5 linked regions of the Homo sapiens genome follow. The protein of the gene in region 1 purifies or fractionates together with the protein of each later gene. This does not show direct contact. Each region holds a gene or a part of one and is shown on either strand. Other genes may lie near its edges. The genes, in order: PPT2, MRPL23, PC, IARS2 and SUPT5H.

The links.
Region 2: the proteins of PPT2 (region 1) and MRPL23 fractionate together in Homo sapiens (co-fractionation; one large-scale study listed by BioGRID). This does not show direct contact.
Region 3: the proteins of PPT2 (region 1) and PC fractionate together in Homo sapiens (co-fractionation; one large-scale study listed by BioGRID). This does not show direct contact.
Region 4: the proteins of PPT2 (region 1) and IARS2 fractionate together in Homo sapiens (co-fractionation; one large-scale study listed by BioGRID). This does not show direct contact.
Region 5: the proteins of PPT2 (region 1) and SUPT5H fractionate together in Homo sapiens (co-fractionation; one large-scale study listed by BioGRID). This does not show direct contact.

Annotation. Positions count from the first base shown.
Region 1 is NC_000006.12:32,156,183-32,162,239, reverse strand, and holds part of PPT2 (lysosomal thioesterase PPT2 isoform a precursor), read right to left. Parts: intron 4,604-6,057; coding exon 4,520-4,603; intron 4,401-4,519; coding exon 4,316-4,400; intron 1-4,315. UniProt on the Homo sapiens protein: Catalyzes the cleavage of thioester bonds from S-palmitoyl-CoA or S-palmitoyl-N-acetylcysteamine (unbranched structures) but does not have activity against palmitoylcysteine or palmitoylated proteins, branched structures or bulky head groups.
Region 2 is NC_000011.10:1,948,660-1,954,600, reverse strand, and holds part of MRPL23 (large ribosomal subunit protein uL23m), read right to left. Parts: intron 5,271-5,941; exon of another isoform or gene 5,125-5,270; intron 3,703-5,124; coding exon 3,580-3,702; intron 2,475-3,579; coding exon 2,392-2,474; intron 1,820-2,391; coding exon 1,746-1,819; intron 1-1,745.
Region 3 is NC_000011.10:66,864,316-66,870,372, forward strand, and holds part of PC (pyruvate carboxylase, mitochondrial precursor), read right to left. Parts: coding exon 5,987-6,057; intron 4,650-5,986; coding exon 4,531-4,649; intron 2,035-4,530; coding exon 1,872-2,034; intron 1-1,871. UniProt on the Homo sapiens protein: Pyruvate carboxylase catalyzes a 2-step reaction, involving the ATP-dependent carboxylation of the covalently attached biotin in the first step and the transfer of the carboxyl group to pyruvate in the second.
Region 4 is NC_000001.11:220,134,176-220,140,232, reverse strand, and holds part of IARS2 (isoleucine--tRNA ligase, mitochondrial precursor), read right to left. Parts: intron 5,832-6,057; coding exon 5,723-5,831; intron 3,425-5,722; coding exon 3,322-3,424; intron 3,070-3,321; exon of another isoform or gene 2,967-3,069; intron 2,316-2,966; coding exon 2,190-2,315; intron 1,226-2,189; coding exon 1,094-1,225; intron 51-1,093; coding exon 1-50.
Region 5 is NC_000019.10:39,471,924-39,477,980, reverse strand, and holds the end of SUPT5H (transcription elongation factor SPT5), read right to left. Parts: intron 5,573-6,057; coding exon 5,488-5,572; intron 5,172-5,487; coding exon 5,052-5,171; intron 4,970-5,051; coding exon 4,867-4,969; intron 4,779-4,866; coding exon 4,651-4,778; intron 4,566-4,650; coding exon 4,460-4,565; intron 4,019-4,459; coding exon 3,860-4,018; intron 3,748-3,859; coding exon 3,579-3,747; intron 3,467-3,578; coding exon 3,263-3,466; intron 1,901-3,262; coding exon 1,805-1,900; intron 1,726-1,804; coding exon 1,582-1,725; 3' UTR 1,311-1,581; downstream 1-1,310. UniProt on the Homo sapiens protein: Component of the DRB sensitivity-inducing factor complex (DSIF complex), which regulates mRNA processing and transcription elongation by RNA polymerase II.

The sequences.
Region 1 (6,057 bases):
TCAAAAAGGAAAGGAAAGGAAAAAGGAAAGAAAAAAGAAAAGGAAAAAAGAAAGGAAGAAATCAAGGTGGGCTAAGGTCCCAAAGGAACCCAAGGCCTACTGGGGAGACAGGTAGCAGGGAGGACACTCAAAACTACCTTACTGGATATAATGTACTTCATGAGGTGATACACTGAAGATACGACCTCACTTCTGTAGAAACCCCATCAAAAATGCATTACTGGCCGGGCGAGGTGGCTCACACCTGTAATCCCAGCACTTTGGGAGGCCAAGGCCGGCGGATCACCTGAGGTCGGGAGTTCAAGACCAGCCTGGCCAACGTGGTGAAACCCCATCTCTACTAAAAATACAAAATTAGCTGGGCGTGGTGGCTCAAGCCTGTAATCCCAGCACTTTGGGAGGCCGAGGAGGGTGGATCATCTGAGGTCAGGAATTCGAGACCAGCCTGGCCAACACGGAGAAACCCTGTCTCTACTAAAAATACAAAATTAGCTGGGCGTGGTGGGCGCCTGTAATCCCAGCTACTCAGGAGGCAGAGGCAGGAGAATTGCTTGATTCTGGGACGCAAAGGTTGCAGTGAGCCGGGATGGCGCCACTGCACTCCAGCCTGGCGACAGAGTGAGACTTTGTCTCAAAAAAAAAAAAAAAAGAGGCCAGGTGTGGTGGCTCATGCCTGTAATCCCAGCACTTTGGGAGACCAAGGAGGGTGGATCACCTGAGGTCAGGAGTTCAAGACCAGCCTGGCCAACATGGAGAAACCCCGTCTCTACTAAAAATACAAAATTAGTTGGGCATGGTGGTGGGCGCCTATAATCCCAGCTACTCAGGAGGCTAAGACAGGAGAATCACTTGAACCTGGCAGGCGGAGGTTGCAGTGGGCCGAGATTTGCCATTGCACTCCAGCCTGGGCAACAAGAGTGAAACTCCAACTCAAACAAACAAACAAACAAAAAGATACTAAAGAGACGTAACAAGATCATGCAACTCAAGATCCTGATTTGGATCTTCCACTGTATATTTTTTTCTGTAAGGACAGTTGGAAAAATTTGAATAATCTGTGAGCGCATATTCAGGAAAATTTGAATCTATGTTTATATTTAAATATAACATTAACGTATATAAATAAATGTATATATATTTAGAGAAAAAAGATATTAATGTAAACATGACAAAATGTTAACATTTGCGAAATCTAGGTGAGGAGTATAAATGACTGCTTTTTGCTATTTTGGTAACTTTTTTTTTTTTTTTTGAGACAGGGTCTTACTCTGTCACCCAGGCAGGAGTGCAATGGTGAGATCTCGGCTCACTGCAGCCTTGGCCTCCTAGGCTCAAGCAATTCTCGTACCTCAGCCTCCCAAGTAGCTGGGACTACAAGGGCACACCACCACGCCCAGCTAATTTTTGTATTTTAGGTAAAGACAGGGTTTTGCCATGTTGCCCAGGCTGGTCTCAAACCCCTGGGCTCATGCCTCGGCCTCCCAAAGTGCTAGGATTACAGGCGCAAACTTTTCTTAAGTATGAAATTATTTCAAAATAGAAAGGTCTTAAAATCCTTTTTTTCTTTTTTTTTTGAGACAGAGCCTTGCTCTGTCACCCAGGCTGGAGTGCAGTGGCACCCTGTCGGCTCATTGCAACCTCCGCCTCCTGGTTTCAAGTTCTCCTGCCTCAGCCTCCTGAGTAGCTGGAACTACAGGCGTGCGCCACCAGGCCCACTAATTTTTGTATTTTTAGTAGAGATGGGGTTTCTCAATGTTAGCCAGCTGTTCTCGAACTCCTGACCTCAGGTGATCCACCCGCCTCGGCTTCCCAAAGTGCTGGGATTATAGGCGTGAGCCACCGCACCCAGCCAGATGGAGTTAAAATCTTTTAATTAAAAAATATTGGCCAGGCAAGGCCGGGTGCGTGGGCTCACGCCTATAATCCTAGCACTTTGGGAGGCCGAGGCGGGTGGATCACGAGGTCAGGAGATCGAAACCATCCTGGCTAACACAGTGAAACCCCGTCTCTACTAAAAATACAAAAAAATTAGCCGGGCGTGGTGGCGGGTGCCTGTAGTCCCAGCGACTCAGGAGGCTGAGGCAGGAGAATGGCGTGAACCTGGGAGGCAGAGCTTGCAGTGAGCCGAGATCACGCCACTGCACTCCAGCCTGGGCGACCGAGCGAAGACTCCAACTCAAAAAATATATATCTATCTATATATAGAGAGAGATATATATTGGCCAGGCGCAGTGGCTCACGCCTGTAATCCCAACACTTTGGGAGGCCGAAGCAGGCGGATCACAAGGTCAGGAGATCGAGACCATCCTGGCTAACACAGTGAAACCCCGTCTCTACCAGAAATACTAAAAATTAGCCAGGCATGGTGGTGGGCACCTGTAGTCCCAGCCACTTGGGAGGTGAGGCAGGAGAATGGCTTGAACCCAGGAGGCGGAGGTTGCAGTGAGCCGAGATTGTGCTATTACACTCTAGCCTGGGCGACAAGAACAAAACTCTGTCTCAAAAAAAAAAAAAAGGAAGAAACAGTGACTTGGAACATGAAAAATGTTATATAACCATGAGCTATCACTGTCATTCATAGGGTTGTGGTAGATGTGAAATGACATGATGTACATAAAACTCATCACTTACTATTATATTATTACAATATTTTAAGAGATGTCCTGCCTTCACTGAAAACTGTCCAGTGCCTTCCCATCTCACTCAGAATTTAAAAAAAAAAATCAAAAGCCTGGTTACCGGGACTGTCGGGAAATAGGGATGAGGATATATATATATATATATATATTTTTTTTTTTTTTTTTTTGAGATGGAGTTTCGCTCTTGTTGCCCAGGCTGGAGTGCAATGGCGCAATCTCAGCTCACTGCAACCTCTGCCTCCCAGGTTCAAGCGATTCTCCTGCCTCAGCCTCCCAAGTAGCTGGGATTACATGCATGCATCACCACACCCAGCTAGTTTTGTATTTTTAGTACAGACAGGGTTTCTCCATGTTGGTCGGGCTAGTCTCGAACTCCCGACCTCAGGTGATCCACTGCCTCGGCCTCCCAAAGTGCTGGGATTACAGGCGTGAGCCACCACACCCAGTCTATTTTTTAATGGGTATACGGTTTCAGTTTGGGGAAAAAGAAGTTCTGGAGATGGATGGTGCTGATGGGTGATGGTTTTACAATGATGTGAGTATACTTAATGCCACAAAACTGTACATTTTTAAATGGTTAAAATGGCAATTTTATGTTATGTATATTTTATCACAAAAAAAAGAAAAAAAAATATCAAGGGCCTTACCTTGACCTGCTAAGGTTTGACATGCCTGGTCCCCTGCTACCACTTTTAGCTCCTCTCCTGTCCTCTCCCCAGCTCCTTGTGCACTAGCCATGCTGGCCTCCTTATTGCTCACACGTGCTTCAGGGCCTCTGCAGGTGCCAGACCTTCTCCCTGGGGGGTTCTTCCACCCAGAGCACAACTCCCTCCTTCACTTCCTTCAGTCTCTAATTGAATGGTGACTTTTCCAGGAGGACTTCTTCGGCCACTATTGAAACTAGGCCCCGGACATCCTCTAATCCTTTCCCCTGCCTTATTACCTGACATATATATTTGTATGTATGTATCAGCTATCTTACAAACTAGAATATAAGCTACATAACATTAGGGACTTCTCTTTTATTTACCACTGCATCCCTAGGGCCCAGAACAAGCCTGCGCCCATAATGTTGAATAAATATTTGTTGAGCAATTCAAGTAGCTCAGGTGACATTACAGATCACACATGGTGACCTATAACACAGGCAAGCACATAGTACCATGGAGCCATGGATTTTTTTCTAAGGAATAGGATGGAGGGGACAAAGCTGGAGGCTGTTATAATAGTCCAGGTAAGTAAAGAGGTGGTAGGAAATGTGATAAAATGGTATAAAACTACACACACACATTGAACCAATGTGAATTTCCTGGTTTTGATACTGTGCTATAATTACATAGGATGCAACCACTGGGGGAAGCTGGGTGAAGGGCCTTGCTATACTATCTTTGCAATTTCCTATGAATCTATAAGAATTTCAAAATTAAAAGTTTTTATAAAGTGGGGGAGGGGGTGATAGGGATGGAGAGGAGAAGAGTCAGCAGGACTTAGTGACTGGCTTGATACAAGGGGTTGGGATATGACTCCCAGGTTTTGGTCTTGGGTGACATGATGAATGGGGGGAGGAGCACTAACTGAACAGTGGAAGGAGCAGGCCAGTTTAGGCATGAGATAAAGACCAACTGGGGTTGGGGGATGTCTTTAGCCAATCTTCAGGCCACAAAATCCCTTATTACCTGGACTGCCAGGGAGTAATAACACCATCATCAGGGCCCCCAATCAGCACCAGGTGGCCCACACGCAGAAAGTTCTTCCGCCATACTGTAGGATGGGAAGAAGAGAGGCTGAGTCAGCCACAGGGGTCAGGCCAGGTTGGAGAGGGAGACATAGGGAGTCAAAGAAGCAGAAAAAGCAACACAGGTAGGAGCCTGAATTCTCACCTGTGGCATTGGGATGGTCTCTTTCCCCATTGATCAGGGCCAGGAAGCTGCTGGCATTGAGGTACAAGTCATCGTGGTGGGGATCTGGGTACAAACAGCAGTTAGAAAAAGAAGCAGAAAAGGGAGGCAAGACTGGTGGTGAAAAGCCCAATAAGGAAGCTGCAGCAATAGTCAAGGTGGATAGTAATAAAATAGTAGTGATAATGTAGGCCAGGTGCGGTGGCTCACACCTGTAATCCCAGCACTTTGGGAGGTAGAGGCAGGTGGATCACTTGAAGTCGGGAGTTTGAGACCAGCCTGGCTAACATGGCGAAACCCTGTCTCTACTAAAAATACAAAAGTTAGCCAGGCGTGGTGGTGCATGCCTGTAATCCCAGTTACTCGGGGCGCTGGAATCACTTGAACCCAGGAGGTGGAGGTTACAGTGAGCCGAGACTGCACCACTGCACTCCATCCTGGGAGACACAGTGAGACTCCATCTCAAAATAATAATAGTAGTGATAACAACCGTAAACATAGTAACAAGTACTTTTTTTTTTTTAGATGAAATCTCACTCCGTCACCCAGGCTGAAGTGCAGTGGCAGGATCTCCGCTCACTGCAACATCTGCCTCCCGGGTTCAAGCAATTCTCCTGACTCAGCATCCTGAGTAGCTGGGATTACAAGCGTGTGCCCACATTCAGCTAAATTTTTTTTGTATTTTTAGTAGAGATGGGGTTTCACCATGTTGGCCAGGCTGGTCTCGAACCCGACCTCAGGTGATGCGCCCACCTCCCCCTGCCAAGATATTGGGATTACAGGTGTGAGCCACCACACCTGGCAATAGCAAGTACTTCTATCTAGTATCTACTATATGAGCCAGGTACTATTCAAAGTACATTGCATTCATTTATTTATTTAATCCTTACAACCACCTGGTGAAGTACATGCTATAATATTTTACAGATAAGGAAAACTGAGTAACAGAATGGTTAAGTAACTTGCCCAAAGGCACCCAATAGGGTCAAGATTCAAACCCAAGTATTCTGGCCCCATGGTCTGGTCTAGAGGTTGGCAAACTGTGACCAAAGGACCAAATCCAGCCTGCTACTTGTTTTTGTAAATGAAGTTTTACTGGAACACAGGCACATTCATTCACATATGGTACATGGCTGCTTTCACACTACAACAGCAGAATTGAGGAGTTGTGAAACAGACTATATGTCCTACAAAGTCAAAAATATTTACTCTCTGGCCCTTTATAGACAAGGTTTGCTGACTCCCACATCAGACTAAACCTTCTAAGGCAATAAGGTGACACACTTAAAACATTCTGGGCCAGGTGCAATGGTTCACACCTGTAATCCCAGCACTTTGGGAGGCCGAGGCGAGTGGATCACCTGAGGTCAGGAGTTCGAGACCAGCCTGGCCAACATGGCGAAACTCCATCTCTACTTAAAATACAAAACTTAGCCGGGCATGATGGCGCCTGCCTGTAATCCCAGCTACTAGGGGGACTGAGGCAGGAGGATCACTTGAACCTGGGAGGCGGAGGTTGC
Region 2 (5,941 bases), on another chromosome or scaffold:
CCCAGGACTTTGGGCCAAGGAGATGCTTATCAGGTTGTCGGAGAAAGAAATGTGGGACTCCCGCCACGTGGGACAGGGCCTTTCCACAGCGGCCAACTCCAAATAACGTGGATAATTTTACCTTTCCAATGCTCCCTCCCTGGGCTTTGCAATTAGCAGTGATTCTAAGCCCTGGCGCAGGGCCCAGGGGGACACGCTGAGCAAGGTCTCAGCAGACACGAGACAGGAAAGGGCCTTGAGAGTCCCCTCTGCGGGCAGACAGGGACCAACGGCCACGGCCCATTTCTAGGCTGTGCAAAGATGTGCTGGAGTTCAGGAAGGGGGGTGAGGACCCGTTACAAATTTTCATTCTGGAACAGGAGGATCCATGCCCAACTGGGACCCTTCAGGCTCCCAGTTGCCCTGCCCTGTCTCTGGCTGCCTGGACTTCACAGAGGGAGAACAACACGCGGGCAGCAGCTGCAGACACCGGATCCCGGAGCTGCTGGGTTCAGTTTTCATGGGAGGTGGGGCCCAGAGGAAGAACGCAAGGGCTCGGATGACTTGAATGCCACTTGTAACCGTAGCTGCCTCTGAAGTGCCCGTGGCGGTGCCGGCACACGGGATGTCCACCCACATGCCATGACAAAGACAGATGGGCCCGACTGACACTGAGCACACAGAGGCCTTTATGAGGCCAACGGCTGCTCTCCCCACCTGGATTGGCTGATTTCATGCACAGCAAATATCAGGCCAAATTATTCCGGGGGCCCCTGTTTAGAACAACAAATGTGACTGTTTTTCAGAAAAGCTGCCATGCTAACTTGGCCTTTTTCACAAACTGCCTCCTTAGCCCCACAACAGGCCGGCTGGCCCAGGAGGCGGTTTCCACCATCGTGTGACTGCCATCTAGTGGCAGGGCCCGCCGGCTCGGCCTCCAGGGACCATTTACACCGGAAGACAACCCCATCCCCACCCAGTAAGGCCAGCCCCAGGGGCAGAGTGGGGAGGCCCAGGAGGCGGCCGGGGCAGGCTGTGGACATCTTGGCCCAGAGAGAAAGTGCCTCTGGGTTTGCCTGGGACTCAAAATGAAGAGCCCAAAGAAAGGCTTTGAAACTGTGGGTCTCACTCCTGACAAGTCTGGGTTTCAGAAACTGAAGGCCCAGGCAACGTGGGGTGAGGGTTCTTCCTCCCCAGAGCCCCCCAGGATACGTAAGAAAGCACCTGCTCAGAAGCAGCCTGCTGAGCCCTAACAAGTACGTGGGACCTGCTACCCTGCAATGCAGGACATGGGCCTCAGCCAACAGCCCGGCCAGCCAGACCTGCCTTGGCACCAAAGACCTTTGCCCTCAGGGGCCTCACACTCTGCCTCCGAGGCTGAAACCCAGCCAAGGACAGGCTCTCCAGAGGCCGGGGCCTCCCATGCTCTGACACCCTGGTGTGCGTTGGAGTTGAAACCCACTAGGCCTGTGATGGCTGCCTTTGCCCACAGAGAATTCAAACTTCAAAATCACAAAACGGCCGGACGCTGAGACGTGCCCCATGTGCCCCAGTGCTCACGTGCTCCCAGCGCCACCACTAACACCCCCAAGGCCGTGACGGAGCATGACCTTATGTGGAGCCTGCCTCTGCGCTGAGGCCCTGAGATCCGGCCTCACGGGGGCTCCCTGGGCCCCAGCGCAGCGTCTCCGGCACAAACATCCCCAAGGACACAGTTGCGAGGAGCCCCTCGGAGGCCCCGCTGGGGCTGGCCAGCTCACACGCACCAGCTGCACGTAGGCGACCTTGTAGTCCGGCTTCTTGATCCTCACGTTTCTGTGATCTCTTCTCTTGTTAGAGCCTGCCGGAAGGGAGTGAAAAAAAAATCAGAACTTTAAAAAAATCAGAACTTTAAAAAATTACATCCTCAGAGGTCAATGCCACTAAAACGAACCTCTGCTCTCTTAAAAATGTAAATATGTTTTTAAAAACTCAAAAAGGCGATTTCTCAGGGAAATGGGCACTGTAATCAAACGAGCCAGCACAGCAGGCTCCCAGGCTCCTCCCTTCTCCCAACAGAGGCCAGCAGGTTCTCAACAAAGGAGCGGACGTGGCACCAGCCAGGGCACACGACAGGGGCTTATGGAACAGACAGCGCTTTGCTCCCCAGCCTCAGCCACTGCAGTCCCACCTCGGGGGCTGACGGCAGGAGTCAGGGCTCAGAATGGACCCCGGGCCAGCCCAGTTGAATTCCAATCCCTGCTCTGGCACGTAAGCACCGTGTGACCCTGACAAGTCACCCTGTGCCTCAGTTTCCCATGAGCCACGTCAGACCAAGACCCCCATGCAGTAGCTGAGGCTGTGGCTCGGCGAGGTGGGCATGTGGCACAGATGGGCACGACACCAACAGGAGAACCTCCCATGGGCACTCACCATGCTGCACCCGTGTCCGCACAGCAGCCACGGGCACGTTATAGATGCCCTCGAGGTAATTCCTGAGGTCCACCCTTGTCATTCTGGAGGCGAAGGAGAAAGAAAACGGCATCTTAACCAGGCTAAAAGCCAAAAATACTGTCCCAGATGCACAAGCACCCGAGGCTGAGAGGCCGACAGACCAAGACCCACAGGGGGCAGGGAGGAGGGCTGGGTACATCAGCGGCACTAGTGAGGCCAGGCAGCCCCAGCAACACCAGTGCTGCTGGCTGCAAGACTCCCTACTCTGGGCACACCAGCATGGGGTGGCAGTGGCACAGACCCCACAGAGTGGGAGCACTGCCCAACCAACCCCTGGCCTGCTCCACAGCCCCACATGGCTCCCTGCTCCGGGCAAGTGCCTGTGAGAGGAGGTGACAGTCTCTGCACGCTCCTGGCTGGCAGGTGCCCCACCTCGTCTGCCCCGGGGCCCAGTGGCCGCATCAGGGTTAGGCCTGCTCTGCGGCTGATGGGACTGATGCGGTTCTAGGAAGTACCTTCTGGAAAGGCCTGCCTGGCATTCGGTGCGTTAACTGCAAGTTCCCTCTACTGCAGAACCTCACGGTCACTGTCAACTCAGCTTCTGGGCCCCTGCAGGCTGCACAGGCCTGACCTTCGCCCCCAGGGGAGCTCACGCTGCTGCCCCGCCTGGCTCGCATCAACCCTGAGCTGGGGACCTGTGAACTTAAACACTGCAGAGCAGCACCCCAGTTTTGCTCGTAGGGACTGTGCATTTCTCTGAAGGTCAAGCAGGCTCTTCTGAGCGGTTCTGTACATCACGGCCTGCTCCCAACCCAGCCTCTCAGGGCGCCTCTCCTAAAAAGAAGCTGCAAGAACTCAACAGAAGACGCGAGCACAGAGGTCCAAATTTTAAGGCTTCCAGTGAAGCCGTCCCCGGGTGGAGGGCGGCGTGCAGCCTGCCTGCCGGGCTCCACACCTACAGGCACTCCATCAATACTTGCCGGGCAGGGCCGCCTGAGGTGCCTTCCCAGCAGGAAGAGGCTAGCACGTGAGCAGAGTTGTTTTAACTCAGGACCCAGGCCCCCCTGAGGGCACTCTCCCAACCCAGCGGGAAAACTTCCGGGCTCACTCCACGGGGATCCCCCCGAGGGTGCTCCCCAACCCCAGCCGGAATCCTCCCGGACTCACTCCATGGGGATCCGGAACTGCACGGTGTCCTCGGGCTGGGCCACACCGGGCCGCACCAGCTGAATGAAGAAGTTGGTTCGGAACACCCGAAGTTGTGGGCCACCCAGCCGGTACAGGGGGTACCTGTACAGAAGAGATTGGGTCCATGTCACACACTTAGGCCAAGGCAGCCCGACACACCAACCCTGCAGACCTCCGAGTGTCCACTCACAACAGGGTGGGCAGAAAAGGGGGTAGCTAACACTGCGGATCCCTGAGTGTCCACTCCCAACAGTGGTGGGCGGGAAACGGGGTAGCTAACCCTGCAGACCCCCGCGTGTCCACTCCCAACAGTGGTGGGCGGGAAACAGGGTAGCTAACCCTGCAGACCCCCGCGTGTCCACTCACAACAGGGGTGGGCGGGAAACAGGGTAGCTAACCCTGCAGACCCCCGCGTGTCCACTCACAACAGGGGTGGGCGGGAAACGGGGTAGCTATCAGCAGGTCACCACCCAAGGACACAGAGGTCCCCACAGCCCCTTTCTCACATGGGCCTGCCAAGGTGGACGGCCAGTCCCTAGCATCGACTTAAGGAGCATGCGCTGTTGACCCCCAAGGTCAGACTTTAGAAAAGGCCAATGGACAAAAATCAGAACCCCGCAGACAGCATTCCCCCAATAAGCTGATGGCAAGGCTCAAAGACGTGTGTTGGGGCACTGATACCCCTGGGAGAGCAGACCCCACGCGGCCGGCCCACTCTCCTGCTGCTCGGGTGAAGTGGAGCTGCAGAGAACCACACACCATGGGACAGAAAAGGCCAGCTCCGCACTCTCCCGGTGGCAGCAGGGCCTAGCTCCTCGGTATGGAGAACGCAGGCTAACCAGGCTTAGGCTCCTGGAAGACGGTGCTGCCAAGACTCTGATTCAGTACACTAAATGTGAGTTGAGTGCACCACACCCCAGCACTCCACTAAAAGCCAGCAGAGGCAGATGGAGAGGTGCCAAGTGGCCACCGCAAACTAGACCAGCACGCTGCCTGGGCTGGGGGGCCAGGTGACGATCGTGCAGAATCTCTAGCCAGTTGGTTTCGTGCATTCTCCCACGTTCAGCTGGGTGGACAGGCAGCACCGTCCTACCGTCCCCCACCCCCGTTCCCGCCCCTGCCACTGCCGGCACACCCTGGCTCTATCTGGGCCTCAGAGCTGGGGGGAGGAGGGGCACAGGAGAAACTCAGGCCTGCTGGGTCTCGGGGGATGTGGGGTCTGAGAGCCTAGGTGCAGGTCTTGGTGGACGGGGAGCACAGGGGCTCTTGAGGGGTCTCTGGTGGCCTTATCTGAGGCACTGCACATGGCCCTGGCCTTGGGAGCACCCAGCACCAAGTTAAGAGGGGCTCCGTGAGGCCAACGCTGCCCCAGGCTTCACATGAATTTCACGCTGGCCTCTGCCTGTCTAGGGAAGATGAGGAGGAAGTGAGGGTCAGAGGCCTTGGGTGGGGTGTTCCTGAAGGGCCAACAGTGGTAGGCAGCACTGAGCCTCTGGGCCTGAGGGCCTGGCAGGGGCCAGGAGCTGCTGGGACCTCTCAGAGGCAAGGCGCCTGTAACAAAGCCCGATCACTAATCATGTCCACCCCAGGCCTCCTGATGACCACACTGACACATGGCAGCCTGGTGGCCGGGCCAGTGGGGCTGAGTCTTCACTCACCCAACCCCAGCAGAGCCTCCTCTTGGGCATGGCCTTGGCCTTTCCAAGCCTCAGAGTGCAGCCTTCAGGGGTGGGCCCCAGTGAGAGGCCGAGAAGAAAGGGTGGGCTCTGGAGGTGGAGGGGCCTGACTTGTTTTACCCACAGGTTCAGGCTAGCCATGGCCACCCGAGGGGCTCACACATTCCCTCTGGTGACCAGCTGTGGGACTGCAGGAGTGGAGACAAAGTTTGGGGACTCCCAGTAAACAGTAGAAAAGAGGGTTCAACAGCTCCCAGGCCATTAATTTTCGAGTCTCCAGGCTTGGGGCCTGAAGGGCACACTTTGCTAAGGGTCTGAAGGGCCATGTGTGGGCTTGAGATGAGAGGCTGGCAGGGGTTGGGCCAGGACGATTCACTGTCCTTGTTCCCACAGGCCGAGCCTCTCCAGGCTGGAGCGCCAGCTGCCTGTGCATGGAGCCTGCAGATCTGGAACAATCTGCACTGTCGACACCCAGGGCCCCAGGACAGGGCTCTAAGGCCTCTCTTTTGTTCTCGAACCCTTGTGGGCCCACCAGCCCTCAGTTCCCTCAGTCCCACTCTCCCCAGGGAGCACCCCAAGCACTCCGCATGGGATTTCACAAGCACCTCCACGGTAACCTATCTCAAGTAGAACTCTGCACTAACTTCTTCCTCAAAACACAAAAA
Region 3 (6,057 bases), on another chromosome or scaffold:
TTTCAGACTCATCCACGTTCGTTCCACAGCACGGATTGAGGTCTGCTGACCCGGCCGCTAAAGGGCCTCGCCGTGGGCTCCCAGACAGCGAGGGGACGGCAGGCCGGCGACAGGGCCTCCAAAGGACCATGTGCGAGGCAAGAGGCAAGGCTGACCGGGGGTTTGTTTTTGTTTTTAACAGGGTGGTGGGGAAGGCCTCAACATCCACCCATGCTCCCTTCCTTTCCTTTCCTTTCCTTCCAGAAGGGAGGATGGGAGGGAGAGGAGGCAACGAGGAGGAAGTGGGAGAGGAAATGAAGGGAAAGTGCCAGAGGCAGGGTCCACACCCATCAGGGAAGCAAACCAAGGGCGAGGAGAGGGCAGCGGGGCAGCGGGACAGGGCCAGGGCCAGACGGCAATGGGAGGGGCAGCGGAGAGGAGGAGACAGAGGCGCCGACACTCACACACACAGGTGGCTCGTGCCGCCTGCACCTGTTCGTGCCGCCCGAGTGAGCCCCGCAGAGAAGGGCTCCCCGGAGGTGGGGGACCCGTCAGGCCCAGGTAAGGAAGAAGGGGAGTGGGGGGACCGCCCAGAGGGGCTCGGGACACCCACTGCCCATTTCCGCTTCTCGGGGGCAGAGGCCTGTGTTCAATAAAAAGGAACTTCATAAAATATTTAAGGGTGAACACTCAGCTGAGAGCAGAAACTGTCGGCTAAAAATACTCTGTGATGAGGCAGGCTCTGAAGAGCCAGGGCTTGGAAGTGGGGATGGAGGGAGGCAGAGAAGTCAGGGGCCGCCGGGCAGCACTCAGCCTGGGGCTGCCGCCACCTACAGACTCTTCCAGAAACAGAAGGCAGGTGGCCAGCTCCCTGCTGAAGCCACAGGCTCTGCTGCTTCCAGAATCCAGAGAGCTCTGGTCCCTACCCCCAGCCTCCCCAGCCTCCCTTGTCTCAGAAGCCCAGAGCCTGGCCCAAACTCATGTTTGCTCCCCTCACCGCCCCACACAAGCCCGGGGGCCTCTGCCTTGGACTCTGGAGCAAAGCTGGAGCTCCATCAATGTCTTGCCTCCTTTGGGGCTCAGGCCCCTGGATAGGGAGCAAGTCCCTAGCACAGCTGGCACGGTGCTGGCAGCACGTGCAGGGCTGGGAACAGGCACCGAGCAGGCCGCAGGGCTCCTGCCCACAGCTGGGACCAGAGGCGGGGGAGATGGGTTTCGGAGGCCAATGACTGGGTCCCGGTGCTGAGAGGAAGAAAGGTACAGGGAGCCCTCCTGGAGAAGGCGCGAGTCTTGCTGTGCTGAGGAGCCTGCCGTGGACCGCCTCAGCGCCCCCTACACCACTCTCTCCCCCACCAAGGCTGCCATCTCGCGGCCCCGAATCTACCTCTCGGTCTCCCTCCTGTGCCGCCATCTCCGACTCCCTCCCCCATCCTTGATGGGCCCCTGAGCTTGGCTCAGACTCCATTGGGACCTCTGGGCCCAGTCCTTTGCCACCCCCACCCCCAGGTCCTGCCATGTCAGCCCATCCCTCAGATGGGAGGTGGTGCTTGGGCTCCGTCGGCAGCCAGGCGTGGGGCTCCTGTGGGAGCTGGAGGGTCAGGGGCTGGCTTTGTGTCTGGGTCCCTGCGTTTTGCTCCACCAAGCCAGCCTGCTCCCCGCTCCCACCCTCACGGCTTCCTCCTGACCTGGGCGCCCAGCAGTCTCTTCCCCTGGGAGGCGCCGCCCCTCCTCTGGGCACTGCCTGCCTCCGTGTACTCTATGTCCACTTCAGAGCCCACATGCGGGTCCTCCCTAACTGCCGGGCTGTGGCAACTTGGCACTGCAGCCCCAGGCACCAGGCAGAACCTGTGCACAGGTGAGCTGGCATCTCCCTCTGCTCGAGCTCCGCCCACCTCAATGCGGCCGGTGTCCGGCTGGAAGCTGCGCGCGGGGTCCTCGGTGGTGACCCGGCACTGGATGGCACACCCGTTGATGCGGATGTTCTCCTGCCGCAGGCCCAGGTCGGGTAGGCTCCTGCCCTCAGCCACGTGGATCTGAGCATGGACCAGGTCTACGCTGTAGGGCATTGGGGGGAGGGGGGAAAGGACGGGAGAAAGGGGGAAACATGAGGCGGGGGATAGACGAGGGGCACCGCAGCCAGTGGGGCGTCCACACACAGTGCGACTCCTGCCCATAGGCTCTGGGCCAGCCTGAACAGCCGGTTCCTCCCAACCAGTGGCTCCACCAGCCCCTGCCCTGCTCCCGCCGGGAGCCGACTAAACTACACAGTGCCTGGCAGCTGGAGATGGCCCGCTGAAATACCAGGACCACCTGCTCCTGCATTCCTGACTCACGGTGCCGTCCACACAGCCCTAAGCTGCTCCTCCCTGTACTCTGCCTCCTCCTTCCTTGAGGTCTGTTTTCCCCACTCCCCTAAACTCCCCCTTGGTAAAGCCTAGATTTGAAGCCTCAGCAGATCTCTAGGTCAGAGGGCCAGGATAGCACATTCTTGGGGCCATATGTGCTATGCTGTGTGGGTGGTTGTGAGGGGGGCAGTGTGCAAGGGAACAGGTGCTGTGAAGGCTGGGCTCCTCGAAATGGTAACCACAGCTGTGAGAGGGTTGCACAGTGGGTGCTGGGTCAGGACCTGTCCTTCTGAGGCCTGTTTTCCTGCTGGACTTGTGCCCAAAACCCCCTAGAGATGCTTGGAGAGTGCAAGCTTCCCCACCTCTGCAGGGTTTTCCAAGCTCAGCCTTACTGCTCCTAAGGGCAGTCACAAGTCCAAGTGGAACAGCTGTTTAAAAAACAAAACAAACAAACAAAAAAACCAGGCTGGGCACAGCAGGTCATGCCTGTAATCCCAGCACTTTGGGAGGCCAAAGTGGGTGAATCCCACGAGGCCAGGAGTTCGAGACTAGCCTGGCCAACATGGTGAAACCCTGTCTCTACTAAAAATACAAAAATTAGCCAGGCCTGGTAGTGTGTGCCTGTAATCCCAGCTACTCAGGAGGCTGAGGCAGGAGAATCACTTGAACCCGGGAGGCAGAAGTTGCAGTGAGCAAAGATTGCACCACTGCACTCCAGCCTGGGTGACAGAGCAAGACTATGTCTTAAAAAAAACCACTCAAGGTTTTACATGTATTGCCACTGAGGCTTGTGGTGAAGGCAGCCTGGAACCTACACTGGCAGGATTTCCCCGTGTTCTTGCTGCCTGCTGGCCCACTTCGCAGCAGAGATGACAGCTTCCACTCAGTGCCACAGGCCAGGCTGCACTCCTCCCATGCTTCATCTCCACGACGGTGTGCTGAGAGCCCTGTCATTCCCACCAGAGGAGGAGCTCGAGGGTCAGAGAGGTTGGAGCTCACCCAGGCTCCACGTGGCTTGGGACCTGAGAGCACCTGAGCCCCAATCTGTCTGACACAAAACCCGTGCTCCACAGCAGACAGACTCCCATCCCTAACAGGACGCTCTAAGCAGACCCAAGACCGAGGAGTTCACAGCAGCTTGAGGGGAAGAGTCTCACTCGGCCAAAGTGTTGGCCTTGTCTCTAAGCTTCTCCTAAGGGGAGGGAGGGGCCTCCATGCCCCCGGCGAGCCACAGCAGCCACCCCGACAGCATCCTCAGTCTCAGGTGGGGTTGGGGCTGGGGGCAGAACTGGGGTCAGGGATGCTCCACAGTGAGATGGGCTGGCCCAAAGCAGCGTCAAGAAATTACATGGCTCATAGTAGAGACCTTGAAGGGTGAGGGCCATCATGACTGTCATTTAGAAACCAGGCGGATTTTGAAAATGTCATCCTCAGTGCCTGCAGGGAGCACGCTAGTGCCACCTCTCTAGAGGGCTGTTCCGAGGGATGCTACTTATCCTTCAATCAGATAATCCTGTTGAAGGGTTTACCCTCAGAACTCTTCAGAGCTGAAGCCAAACATTCAGGCACACAGATGATAAGTGACACGCTTAATAACCACCAAAGCCAGACACACAAACTAATTGCCTAACAATCGAGGACTATGTAAGTTAAGAAATACACACAAGACGGAATAGTACGCAGCCACTAAAAGTATTCAGACAGAATTATGGCCTGGGGAAATGCCTTCAACAAATATTAAATAATTTGAAAAGTAGAATAAAAATTCTATATAAAACATCTCTATTGCATCAAACTATGTCTCTAGTAAAACAGGTAAACCGGGAAAGGAGCAAACCAAAGACAGCCGGAGATGCCTGGGTTCCAGCGCCAGCTGTGTGACCCCGAGCAACTCTCCAAATGTCTCTGAGCCTTGCTTTACTCCTCTGACAGATGGGAGCACCTGGGCCTGAGCAATCGGCAGCGTCCTGACAGAGAGGAGGGCTGTCAGTCATTTTTATTTGCTCCTTTGTGCTGATTTTTATAATAACCACGTAATGCTTTTAGAATAATGACTTTTAAAACACTAAGTACCTGGATCCCCATTGCTCTCCACCAATGTGGGGAGTGAGCAAGCCCCCTGGCTGGCCCCAGGAGCCACTTCGCCTGTACTTTATGCAAATCCTAGAAGCCGCGCCTCCCGCCCCGCCTGCCCGCCCACACTCACTCGGTGATCTCCTCTGTGACCGTGTGCTCCACCTGCAGGCGGGAGTTGACCTCGATGAAGTAGTGCTTGCCGTGCCTGTCCACCAGGAACTCCACGGTGCCTGCGTTCTCGTAGCCCACCTGTGGGGGCGGCCACGTGAGCAGGGGAGGGCACAGGCAGGGCCTGGGCAAACTCACTGGACTCAGGACAGGGATTCCGTCCCACCCATTGGGTTGGTTCCGTAAAAGAATGGCCTGTGGCAAACCCTGCCCCCACAGATGGCAGACAGACCCCAGGGCCCAGGTCATGCTCCTGCCTGGACACGTCCCCCAAGTAGTCCACTAGGCTCCAGGGTTCCCGGAGCCACAGATGGCTGCACCCAGCTTATCTGGGACGAGACATGGGCAGAAGCCCCCACCCATCCCAGGCTCGGCACCTTGCCCTGCTGCCTCCTGGGCTTGCCCGCCAAGGCTGTGTCATCCACCCAGACACGGAGACCCAGGCCTCTCCCAGCCGCTGCTTCTGCTTGGAGGTGTTTTCAGAAAGTCCCCTTCTAGTCTACTGCGCAGTCACCTCTGGCCACCACCACCCAAAGAAATTCATTTGAGAGGTACCAACAGATAATGACTCTAACTCAAATTTCAGCCCTAATTCCAGTTTCACTTTTGGTCTCACCAAAACGATAAACCAGACTGAATCACCTCCCTTAAACCTGTTCTGGAATGTGAAATAGTATAAGCCAGTAAATAAGACCTGACTTAAACGCGACCCTGGTCGATGCCTCGCATTAGCTGTGGCTGAGGCCTTGCTGCAGAGTGCACACCCCGGCCTTCGGCATGGGGAGGTGACGCATCCTCTGCTGCCTATAGGCCAGGGAAGAAGAGGGGGCAGGACCCCGCTGCACACCTGGCCACAGCAGGTGCTCTCCAGGCCAGTCCTGGGGCAGGTCACTGTGGGGAGATAGCTTGCCACCTCAGCCTCCTCCACAGCCCAGGACCCCCCGACCAGAGGTCCCAGAAAAGCAGAGATGGGCAGAGGGTGCAGAGCAAGGAAACAGATCATAATAAACATGATGTAGGAGACAGAAGCACATGAGGGAGGACTGCCTTCATAATGGTCCTCAATCTTGACAGAATCCACGGAATCTCATTCTCCTGATGACAGGGATGAGCTGATGCCACAGAGAAGCCAGGTCTGTGTAGCAGCAGGGCTGAGGAGGCGGCTGGGGCTCCTTCCCTCCCTCTTCTCAGCCATCCTGGACTCTAAGCTTGGCCTCTGGGCCAGGTGCCTCAACTGCACATGGGAAGGATGCCACAAACCCACTTCTGGCCCCCAGGAGAGTCCTTCACCCTCTTCTCCCCATCCCCAGTCCCCAGAAGGGGACTCAGGGTCCCCTTCCCCAACCAGCGCCCCACTGTGAGGCCTGCCGGCCTGTGAGCACAGGCTCCTGTCCCAACACGGGAAGCCCACCCTTCACCTGTTTAGCGAGTTTCACAGAGTCGCTGGTGAGCCGAGTCCGAAGCTGCGGGTCCAGGTGGGCGGCGGGGG
Region 4 (6,057 bases), on another chromosome or scaffold:
AACAGCCGAACAACTTTTCCAAAATCATATTGTTTGTATAATTCGGTAATCTAGGGAACAAAGCCAAAATAAATTTGGAAGCTGAGACAGGCAAATGAAAATGTAAGTCATCACAAGCAAAATATGCTCCTTTCAAAAATATGTTTCAATGAGACAAATACAAAACAGGCAATATGCAAGAACTCCTGGGAATCTTCCAAATGTCATTTCTGGATAACACATTTGACTACACTCAGAAAATACTATTTTACTCTGAGAACTACGAAAGGACATTAATTAAGGAAAGAATGAGATTGTAAATAACAAAATCACACCATTTTAACAACAGCAAACAGTGGACGTCACCAACAATTCATTAGTGTTCCTTCATTTATGCCTCATTTATTTTTGATTTGGGCAAAATTGGTATGTACACCTCTGACTTAAGGGTACACTAATGCAAACACATTTCCAATTATGAGAAAACACAATTTTTTTTTTTTAAGACAGGGTCTCACTCTGTCAACCAGGCTGGAGTGCAGTGGCACAATCACAGCTCACTGCAGCCTCAAAACCATGGGCTCAAGCGATTCTCCTGCCTCAGCCTCCCAAGGAGCTGGGACTACATGCACTGGCTAACACGCCTGGCTAATTTTTAAAATTTTTCTAGAGATAGGTTCCTGCTCTGTTGCCCAGGCTGGTCTTGAACACCTGGCCTCAAGCAATCCTCCCACCTCGGCCTCCCAAAGTAGTAGGATTTATAGGTGTGAGTTTCCACACCCAGCCAGAAAACAGAAATTATTTAAGTCTATATGAAAATGAGTAAGTATCTTATGAGACAAATAGGATAGTCCATTTTGGTTATTTCTGTACTTTATTATGAGGAGCACATGTGCAGATAAAGTATAACTCCACTTTATTCCTTCTTGTTGGAAAAATAGAGCTAATCATGAGAGAAAAATCTGGTCCGAGGGGAAGTCTGGACATATTTCTCTTCAAGAGTGCTATAGTTACTATTTCCAGCAAGGTCTGTTCCACTCAGATAAAACTAAAATTTTAACCTACAATAGTGCTGATATTTCTAGTTTCCAAAAGTTTATTAATTTACATTTACCTTGTTTGCCAAATCCTGCAGTAAGTGTAGCATGTACTGGTCTATGACATACATATCGTTTACAGGGATGGAATCTGTTTCTGGGTTGAAATCAGCCACATTTCCCAAAAGAAAGCGAAGTGTATTCCTAAGCTATTCATAGGAAGAAAAAATATGCAGTTAAAAAAATCTAATGGTGCCTTCAATTTTCACTGAAAAGTTATTTTATTACTAACTCTTGTCATTTTCTTAGTGGGGTATTTTTATTATCATTCCAAATAAGACTACAAATGTAAAAAAATAAAAAACAAAAAGTACACAACAAACTCTTATTCCAATAGCCCAGTTATAGGAACAACCACTGGATTTTACGCCTAACGACTGAATTTTCATTATATTTCTTTATTACGTTGGGGCAAATCACCTTTCAGTAGCCCAGTTTATTCATGTGTGTGGGTCAGAATAATGTTATTTCACTTGCTTCACAATGAAATAAAGATACATGGAAAAATGTGAAAGGTTATTGAGTACATAAAAGTATACAAAATTAATATAATCTATACTATGCTATATTACATTTTATATATTAATAAAATATAAAGGATATTATATACAAATTATATAAAATTACTGGTATTACTACCAATGTTTTGAAACAAATAAATTTACACAGGAGTTTTTTGTTTTTTTTGAGACAAGGTCTTGCTCTGTCGCCAGGCTGGAGTCCAGTGGCGCGATCTCGGCTCACTGCAACCTCCGCCTCCTGCGTTCAAGTGATTCTCCTGCCTCAGCCTCCCGAACAGCTGGGACTACAGGTGCATGCCACCATGCCCAGCTAATTTTTGTATTTTTAGTAGAGACAGGGTTTCACTATGTTGGCCAGGCTAGTCTCGAACTCCTGACCTCGTGATCCACCTGCCTCTGCCTCCAAAAGTGCTGGGATTACAGGCATGAGCCACCATGCCTGGCCAACACAGGAGATTCTTAAAATCTCACAATAAATGAAGAACTCGTTTTCATTCAGTTTTTTTCAGTTCCAAACAAAATGTGTCTCATTTTTTAAAACAATGATTTGACAAACTTGTCCTTTAGAAATAGGAAGAATAATAGTTCTAACCTTGCTAATATCATCTCTGGCAGCATTGAGCACGGATGGGCCAATTGCAACTTCGGTGAAGACATTGGAATCAGCTACCCACCAGCGAAGGACATCAGCACCATACGGAGGCTCTTTGCTTTGATCCTTTTCATTGAGAAAAAAATATATAAACACAATGGCTTTCAATTCCAATTAGCCGAACAAATGTTTTAGGTAAAGCTCCTATTCAGATATTTTTGAGCACAATGTAAGTACAAACTATACTAGCACTGTAATGAAATGCGGGCTAACAATCTCAAATTAGACTGTATCTAAAAACAAAACTGGAAAAAGAAAGAGCGTGCTCTGCAATCTTGTTCAATGCACAAATGCTCATACCTAATCTCTTCCCTGGTCATGTCTGTTTCCTCTATTACAGCTGGTGGTTAGACACACAGCAGTGCCAGGGAGGTCTCTATAATAAGGGAGGGGAAGAGGAAGGACTGCTTTTCCTTTCACTATTTCCTAGCAACTCTGTACACAAAACAATGAACGGTTACAGGATGTTAGGCGGGCAGTAAAAAGCTACAGGAGTTAAAAAATAGAAAAAAACAGACAAATGATTTAATTCACAAAAGCAGCTCCAAAAACCCCCCCAAATTATCAGCAACCTCAGATTTGATGTACATTTAGGACCTGCTTTAAAGTGTATAATTTTCAACAATATAATAATGAAATGCGCATTTTGAAGTTGCAATCTCATTTTTCATCATTTCCATTTAACTACACAATCACACTTTACATATTCTTTTTTCACTTCAGACAGCAATGTGCCAACACTGTAACAAGGTTTGAGGGAGGCACACCTCACACAATAGTGCGAAAACCCAATCATCACGCTTACGAATCACAAAAGGATCTACACATTTTAAAGGCTCTCAGACAATTAAAAAAGAAACAGCGTGGTTTGGGACCTAACTGGAGAGTCAGGCCTGAAATAAGTTAAAAGGACCACAATCCCAGCCTCTGCCTTCTTCATTACAATCATGTGTTATTTGAGAGTATAAAAGATAGTTTTTATTTTTACATTGAAGTAACTATATTAAGGGCTTTGGCTGCCAATTTAAGATCCTTAAAACGAAAATAAAATACATTTTAGAGAATCACCTACTTGTCCTCCATTAACGACAACATCAGGATGAATGACATTCCCAAGAGACTTGGACATCTTTTCTCCCTTTTCTCCAAGGGTAAATCCATGAACAATCACTGTCCTAAAGGGACAAATCAGCTATTTTAATGATAAACACAATTATAATTATCTTTTTGAAGATTAGGTACAGCTTAAAAAGAGTATCTAAGTTTGACACAAAAATATGATTTTTCTTGACTGATTATGAATAAAACCTTTTCTTTTCTTTTCTTCTCTTTTTTTTTTTTTTTTTTTTGAGATGGAGTCTCACTCTTGTTGCCCAGGCTGCAGTGCAGTGGCATGATGTCGGCTCACTGCAACCTCTGCCTTCCAGGTTCAAGGGATTCTCCTACCTACGCCTGACCTCAGGGGATCCACCTAACTCGGCCTCCCAAAGTGCTGGAATTACAGGTATGAGCCACCCTGCCCGGCCGAAACCTTTCCTTAAAAGTCAAATTCGGCTGGGTGCAGTGGCTCACGCCTGTAATCCCAACACTCTGGGAGGCCAAGGCAGGCAGATCACTTGAGGCCAGGAGCTCGAGGCCAGCCTGGCCAACATGGTGAAACCCTGTCTCCACTAAAAATACAAAAATTAGCTGGGTATAGTGGTGTGTGCCAGTAGTCCCAGATACTTGGGAGGCTGAGGCATGAGAATCACTTGAACCCAAGAGGCGGAGATTGCAGTGAGCTGAGATCGTTCCACTGCACTCCAGCCTGGGAGACAGAGTAAGACTCCATCTCAAACAAAAAAAGTCATTCTTAGCTCATGTATCACAATAGTCAAACAGTTAACTCTCGACTTACACAAAGGAAAACTTTAGATATTTTCATCACTAAACAGATTATTTTCTGAGCTTCTGCTATGTACTGATTTTATCATTAAAACTAACCAGGTTAGAAAGAGCAAACTACAGAGACAGCAAGGAGATCAGTGGTTGCCAGGGGCCCTGGGGTGGGAGTGGAGATTAGTCACAAATGGGCATGAGAAAACTTTTTAGTGTGTTGGAAATGTTATAAAACCTCTTGTGGTGATAGCGGAAAAACTATATAACTCACTAAAAAAAAAAAAAAAAAAAAATTTTAAATGAAAAAATAAAACCAGGAAAAAGTATGTCTTAAAAAGAGCAGATTATCATCTCAAAATTATTTTCAAAAGACAATTTGAAAAAAATAGGATCTGCCCTTTTACTGGTCTTTAAAACGCATGTTAAGAAACAAAAACATGTAAAAGGGCCAGGCGTGGGGGCTCACGCCTGTAATCCCAGCACTTTGGGAGGCTCAGGAGGGTGAATCCCTTGAGAGCAGGAGTTTGAGACCAGCCTCACCAACATGGTGAAATCCCGTCTCTATTAAAAGTACAAAAATTAGCCGGGCATGGTGGCATGCTCCGTAATTCCAGCTACTCGAGAGGCTGAGGCAGGAGAATCGCTTGAACCCGGGAGACAGAGGCTGCAGTGAGCCAAGATCGCACCACTGCACTCCAGCCTAGGCAATAGAACAAGACTCCATCTCAAAAAAAAAAGAAACATGTGAAATGTTCTGGGATGGGTTTTTATCCTAAGAGAGCCACAATCTTAAGCTAAGCTATTTAGGAATCTTTCTGATTAGTACTTTCACCCACACGTTTGAAAAAGTAATTATGTGTACTAAATGAGAATACCTAATTTAATAAAATTCATGAAAGCAATGTTTCAGTTCACTAGCCACTGTGGATATTACAAATATAAAGGACATCTGCACTCAGGCTGTCTTCTCTCAACCTTGAATATCCTTCCCTACATTCCTCCTAGTCAAGTTTTACCATAGATCAAGATCTAGTTCTAGGCCAGGCATGGTGGCTCACGCCTATAATCCTACCACTTTGGGAGGCCAAGGCAGGAGGACTGCTTCAGGCCAGGAGTTTGGGACCAGCATGGGCAATGGGAGGAGAACGCACCTCTAAAAAAAAATTAAAAATTAGCCAGGTGTGGTGGTGCATGTCTGTAATCCCAGCTACTCAGGAGGCTGAAGCAGGAGGATTGCTTGAGCCAAGGAGACGGAGGCTGCAGCGAGCTCTGACCACACCATTGCACTCCAGCCTGGGTGACTGAATGCGATCCTTTTTCAAAAAAAAAAAAAAAAACAACAACAACAAAGAACTACATAAGTTCCCCCAACTACTCCAGTCAATGCTGACTTTTTCTTCAAAGAGTTATGATCTGCATCACACTCACAAGACACCTTGGTGTTGTCTCCTTTTTCCTTTCTCTTTTTTTACTTCAAATTCTTACAGGACACTGTAAGCAATCAAGAGTGGTGCCTTATCATCTCTGTAGTACTCAGCATAGTGCTTCACACACTGGCAGGTACTCAGCAGGTTGGTTCAGGCATAAATACTTACTTATAAGGTGCTCTCTTCCTTGCTGCCACACTTGTTAATAAGGATGACTGAAACCAACCCCCGAGCTGGTCTTTTCCTTCCAAGTACAAATCTGCTCTTTGGTCAGGACCTCAAAATTAAGTATTAAAAGAAAAAAAAACCCAGAAATTTAAGTTAATTAAAATAGAAAAAGAAGATACTTATTAATAACAATTAGTGGGGAGGAAGGGAAGTAACTTTACAATAGAGAAAACTGACAGATGCCACCTTAACCAAGAAAGTGACCAAAGTTACACATCACCAGTAGTAATGGGACAGAGATGTATCACGTGACTTCTGAAATGATGTACTGAAAT
Region 5 (6,057 bases), on another chromosome or scaffold:
TGAGCACTGTGGCTCACGCCTGTTATTGCAGCACTTTGGGAGGCCGAGGCAGAAGGATCACTTGAAGCCAGGAGATCGAGACCAGCCTGAGCAATATAGTGAGACCCGTCTCTATGAAAAACTTAAAAATAAAAAAATTATCCAGGCGTGGTGGCACACGCCTGTAGTCCCAGCTACTTAGGAGGCTGAGGCAAGAGGATCGCTTGAGCGCAGGAGGTTGAGGCTGCAGTGAGCAATGACTGCACCACTGAACTCCAGCCCGGGCAACAGAGGGAGACCCCACCTCAAACAGAAAAGAAAAAAAAAAGGATCATTGGCCAGGTGCAGTGACTCACGCCTGTAATACCAGCACTTTGGGAGGCCGAGGCGGGCGGATCACGAGGTCAGGAGTTCAAGACCAGCCCGGCCAACATGGTGAAACCCGTCTCTCCTAAAAGTACAAAAAAAAAAAAATAATAATAGCCAGGCGTGGTGGCTCACGCCTGTAATCCCAGCTACTCAGGAGGCTGAGACAGGAGAATTGCTTGAACCCAGGAGGTACAGGTTGCAGTGAGCCGAGATCATACCTCTGAACTTCAGCCTAGATGACAGAGAGAGACTCTGTCTCAGGGGAGGAAAAAAAAAAAAAAGGCCAGGTGCGGTGGCTCACGCCTGTAATCCCAACACTTTGGGAGGCCAAGGTGGGCGGATCACGAGGTCAAGAGATCAAGACCATCCTGGTCAACATGGTGAAACCCTGTCTCTACTAAAATACAAAAAAATTCGCTGGGTGTGGTGGTGCACGCCTGTAATCTCAGCTACTGGGGAGGCTGATGCAGGAGAATCGCTTGAACCCGGGAGGCGGAGGTTGCAGTGAGCCAAGATCGTGCCACTGCACTCCAGCCTGGTGAGAAAGCAAGACTCCATCTCAAAAAAATAAAAATAAAGAGAAAACAAAGAAAAAGGACCATCAAGCACTGTATCCTGCACCACAGGAGGAATTTAGGTTTCCTGGGGGATACTGTGATTTTCACTTAGCATAATTCATGCCTGAATAAGATATAATGTCATCAATCACATGACAAGCTCTACTCTGATCATCTCCTTCCGACGTCTTCTCATACACACTCCCCTCAAGAGCTCTCTGGGGCAGGCACTATCACTATTATCTAGATGGGAAAACAGATTTAGGTAGGGTCCAGTTATTTGCCCCAACCACAAAGCAAGGAAGTGGGGTCTGCAAATGACCCCACTTAAAAACAACACCCTCATTCCCACGGCATACACACACACACACACACACACACACACACACACACACACACACGCACTTTTAGACCAAACAGCTTCTTTTTATTGAAAGACGGTACAACAAAAGCAAGCTGTGGGGAGGAGGTACAGGAAGGTGGGGACCCTCCCCCAGACTCTACTCAGATTCCAATGAGCACCAGGGAGGGAAAAGATGGAAAACTAAAAGGAAAAACAAAAGGAAATCCAGAACAATCCGCCTAGCCCTGCAGGAGGATCTTGTGTCACAGCCAAGGGCCAGGGAAGGAAGGAGGATCACTCTTCATCCGACGAAGTCCACCGGCCCTGCCTGCTTCAGGCTTCCAGGAGCTTCCCCAGGAAGCGGAGGTTGAGGATCTTGAGCTGCTCATCAAGGTCCATACGGACAATGCCATCCTCACCATCAATGCTCAGTAGGACGCCCGTGGCTTCCCGATCCTCGCCCAGGATCACTTTCACCTGGGGGTGGGGGGAATATGGTCAGGGTCCATGTCAGCACCCAACGGCCCCATCTTATCTCCTTGCCCCCTGCCCTTACCTTGTTGTTCTTGGTGGGGGTGATAGGCTCCAGGTGCTCACTGGAAATGCTGACAACCTTCTCACTGTCCTTCAGGTACACAGAGCACATGCCCCCCTGGAGGATGGGGACAGCCTGGTCAGCCTGTCCTGCTCCCAACATGGGACTGAGGCCCATACTCCAGGGGACACAGGCTCAGGGCTCATTCTGAGAACTCAAGGTGAAATGGGGGCAGGAAAGGCCAAGGCTGGGCCTGGTTCCAAGGCCTGGGGCCTGTGGTGCATGTCAGGGTGGACAGGGTGACCCAATCAGCAAGGGAAGCATCAGAATGAAGCTAACAGGCAAAAAGGAGACTGCTTCTTGACTCTTCATGTCCCAAACTGGCCTCAGCGTCTTCCCCACACCTGCTCCTCTTCCTGGACCTGGTCTCAGGGACCGCCCCATGGTCTGCAGGCCCCACCAGAGCTCTGGACCTCATCTTGGTCACCTCCCTCACCAACAAGCCCCTAGCTCTGAGGCCTGGCCATTCAGCCCGTGAGGGTCTCTCCCACCTGCCTCCTGCCTCTTCCCCACAGCCCTGCCCCAGTGCAGCCCAACCTCCCCCTGGGGTCCCAGCCCAGTCTCCCCACCCCCAATCCATCACTGATGGAGAATTCCATACCACAGATCTGCTCCCACCCCTCTCCTGCTTAGATTCCTTCATGGCTCTCCGGCGCCCTCTGGACAGTCTAGGTCCTCCAGGCTGGTGCATGACAGGGCCCCAGCCAACTCTCTGGCCTCATCACTCACCATTTTTTTTTTTTTGAGGAGTCTTGCTCTGTCACCCAGACTGGGGCGCAGTGGCACGATCTCGGCTCACCACAACCTCCACCTCCTGGGTTCAAGCGATTCTCCTGCCTCAGCCTCCCAAGTAGCTGGGATTACAGGCATGCGCCACTATGCCCAGCTTTTTTTTTTTTTTTTTTTTTTTTTGTATTTTTAGTAGAGACAGGGTTTCACCACGTTGACCAGGCTGGTCTTGAACTCCTGACCTCAGGTGATCTGCCCACCTCGGCCTCCCAGAGTGCTGGGATTACAGGTGTGAAGCACTGCTTGGCCCCCTTTGGCTCTTTATGTTCCAGCCACAACAAACCCTTCAGCTCCTGGAATGTGCCCAGGTTCCCCTCACCTCCAGGCCTCTGCACATGCAGTTCCCTCCATTTGGAACTCACTCACCCCAGTCACTTTCCTTAGCTTACTCCTATTCATTTGTCAGGTCTTGGCTCAGATTTCTCCTTCCCCAGGCAGCCCTCCCTGATTCCCCGCTAAATCAGGTAAGATGCCTCCTTTGGGTTCACATAGCTCCCCTTGCCCTCTAGGCTTCCTCAATCCCAGCTCTGCCCACTCTGGGCTGTCACCATCTGGGGACAGGTCTGTCTCCAGTTTAGGGGGTACCAAGGAGAGGATGCCTGCTCACCCACCACCCTGGGCCCCACGTACCGTGACACTGCGGATGACACCTGTCTGTCCCACCACCTGTGTATCCAGGTAGGTGTCCCGCACCTTCACCTGAATGTCAGTGGTTACCCAGTCGCTGGAGTTCTGCTCGATGCCTGAGCCTGGCGTGTGTGGGTTGTAGCCACCAGGGGAGGGAGCTCCAGGTGTCATAGGACTGTAGCCAACGGGGCTCGGGCTGGGGCTAGCCTGCAGGGGAAAGAGGAAGTGTCATTGGGAATAGTCATCTGGCCTGGCCGACCCTATATGCCCAAAGTCACCCTAGCCCACCACCCTTCAGGGCAGGCAGGCAGACCATTACCTGATAGGCCATGGGCGACGGTGTAGGGTGGTAGCTGGCTGGGGAGTGGGTATTCTGGTAGCCTGCTGGGCTTGGCGCCACCTGGTGGTAGCTCTGGGGGCTGGGGCTGGGCTGGTAGGAACCTTGTGGGGAGGGGGCAGCATAGGGAGAGAACTGGTCTGTGTTGTACCTGCAGAGACAGGAGAGAAGGGGGCATTTGTTGGAGGAGGGAGGGGAAAAGAGGTGGTGGCAGTAGGAGGGTTTGGGCAGGGGTAGACGAGGGCAGGCCCCAGTGGACTCACATGGCCGGCGTCCCTGGCGTCTGCGGGTTGTATTGTGGGTTGACCTGTGGGGACGAGGGGTCTGGGTAGCCAGGTGTTTGGGGATTGGGGGTTCCCCCATAGGCCTGCGGGGACGGGGTGGGCTCATCATCGAAAGCATACTCATATTCTTCCTCAGCCCTGTTGGGAGAAAAGTCTGTTGACAGCGACTGTGGTGATAATGCGATGGATGCTTCCAGAACAGCACCCTACACCAGACCCCCAACTGAAGCAATTTCATTCTCACGGGAGCCCCATCCAGAGGCACTCCTGATGTTATTTCCCTTCCACAGCTGACACTGTGGTTGACAGAGATGAGGGTGCCCTCCCAAGGTCACTCCACCCAGGCAGTCTTTCTCCAGGCCCAAGGGTAACCACAATCACTACTGAGGTTGGGGATGGAGAGGAGGCCGCTTTGCCCCCGCCCCGCCATGCTATGCCTCCTCCTTCAAAGGGACCAGCCTGAGGCTAGGAGCAGAGAATGCTGGGTGGGCCCCACAAACCCCTCCAATGCCCCAGACACCCAGCATCATCCCTCACACACACCAGCACACACCAGAACCTGGGGAACCCTGGACTCACCGTGACGGCGTGTTGGGGTTGTTGGGGTCCCAGGCCCCACTCTGGGCAGGAGTGCGGCTGCCATCATGCAGGGGCGTCTGTGAGCCGTAGTGTGGGGTGCGGCTACCTGGAATGGGGGAAATGAGTGTGTCTGTCCTGTCCCTTCTCTAGGTCCCCCTAGCCCCTCTTCCCTGTCCCCTGCGGGCACTCACCATCCTGGAGGGGTGTCTGTGAGCCGTACATGGGTGTTCGGGAGCCAGAGCCATACATGGGCGTCTGGGAGCCATACATGGGCGTCCTCCCATAGGTCGAGGTCATGCCGCCCGGGCGCCGTGAGCCCCTGGGGACGCAGAGAACAAATGGGGTGAGCAGACCCCTCTCACTGCCTAGCAAGCCCCACCCTGGCCCTCCCCAGGCCCCGCCCGTACACCGTGGTGAGCCGCTGACGGTCCACAGAGATGGTCTGGCAGGTGGAGTGCAGCTCCACACGGGCCGTGGACTCTGTGGCATCTTTCACCACACCGATGTAGCCTGCAGGGGGACAGGAGGTCAGGCTGGGCAGGCTCTCCTTCACCATGCCCCTCCCCAGGCCTCCACAGGCCTCGCAGGTCACCTTTGTAGGGCCCCTGGGAGATGCGCACGGTCTGGCCGATGAGTTCGTTGTCCCTCCGGCCCCGGCCCCTGCTCATGCCACCACTGCCGCCACCTGGGCTACCAAAGCCGCCACGCTGACCTGGGGATTGGGGAGAATGTCACTGGTCCCCCACGGCTGTGCCCACAGCAAGGGCACCATCAGAACGTCCCCTTCACTTGCTTGACTCCTCCCTACTTGGGTTAAGAGCCTCCTCTGCCCACCCCTGCCCCATGGCTTTCCTATGGAAGCCCTGACCATTCTGGGCTGTCACTGTGGCGTCTACCCTCCTGTGGGTGGTGAACCCCTAATAGCAGTGCCCAGCCCAGCACAGGCACTCAGTGAGTGTAGGCTGAACAACCAAGTTCCTTCCAGCCCCTTCTACCCACCACATCCCCTGACCCTGAACCCCTCTCACCTCCAGCACTGGGGTGCATGGGGCTGCTGATCCGGGGACTCATAGGCGCAAAGCCACCCACGGTGAAGTTGGTCACATCACGGGGCTAGGATAGAAGCAAGGAGTGAACTGGCAGGCAGGGGATGGGGGAACCACAAACCACAGGAACTCATCATCCCACGTGCAGGGCCCTGAGGAGACCACCCAGCCACCCACACCCCAGGCCTGAATTCCTCTGTGACAGCTGGTCCTGCACACTTTCCTACAAGCCCCACCTCAGGGCCTTTGCACTTGCTGTTCCCCCAAAATGCTCACTCTCCATCCCTTCATTCAGGTCTCTGCTCCAATACTGCCTCCCACTGAGGCCTTTTTTACCCTCCTCTGTCTAAAACAGCAGCCCTGGTCACTCCCTGTCTCCTGAGCCCATTCTGTTTTCTTCACAGCGCTTGCTATCACCTCAAGCTGTACGATGGGTTTATCTGTCTGTCCACCTCTAGAGTATCAGCTCTGTGAGAGCAGAGTATTTTTGTCTTGTTCACCACTGGTTCTCCAGTGTCTGGCACCTAACAGGTGCTCAGTAAAATGAAATGA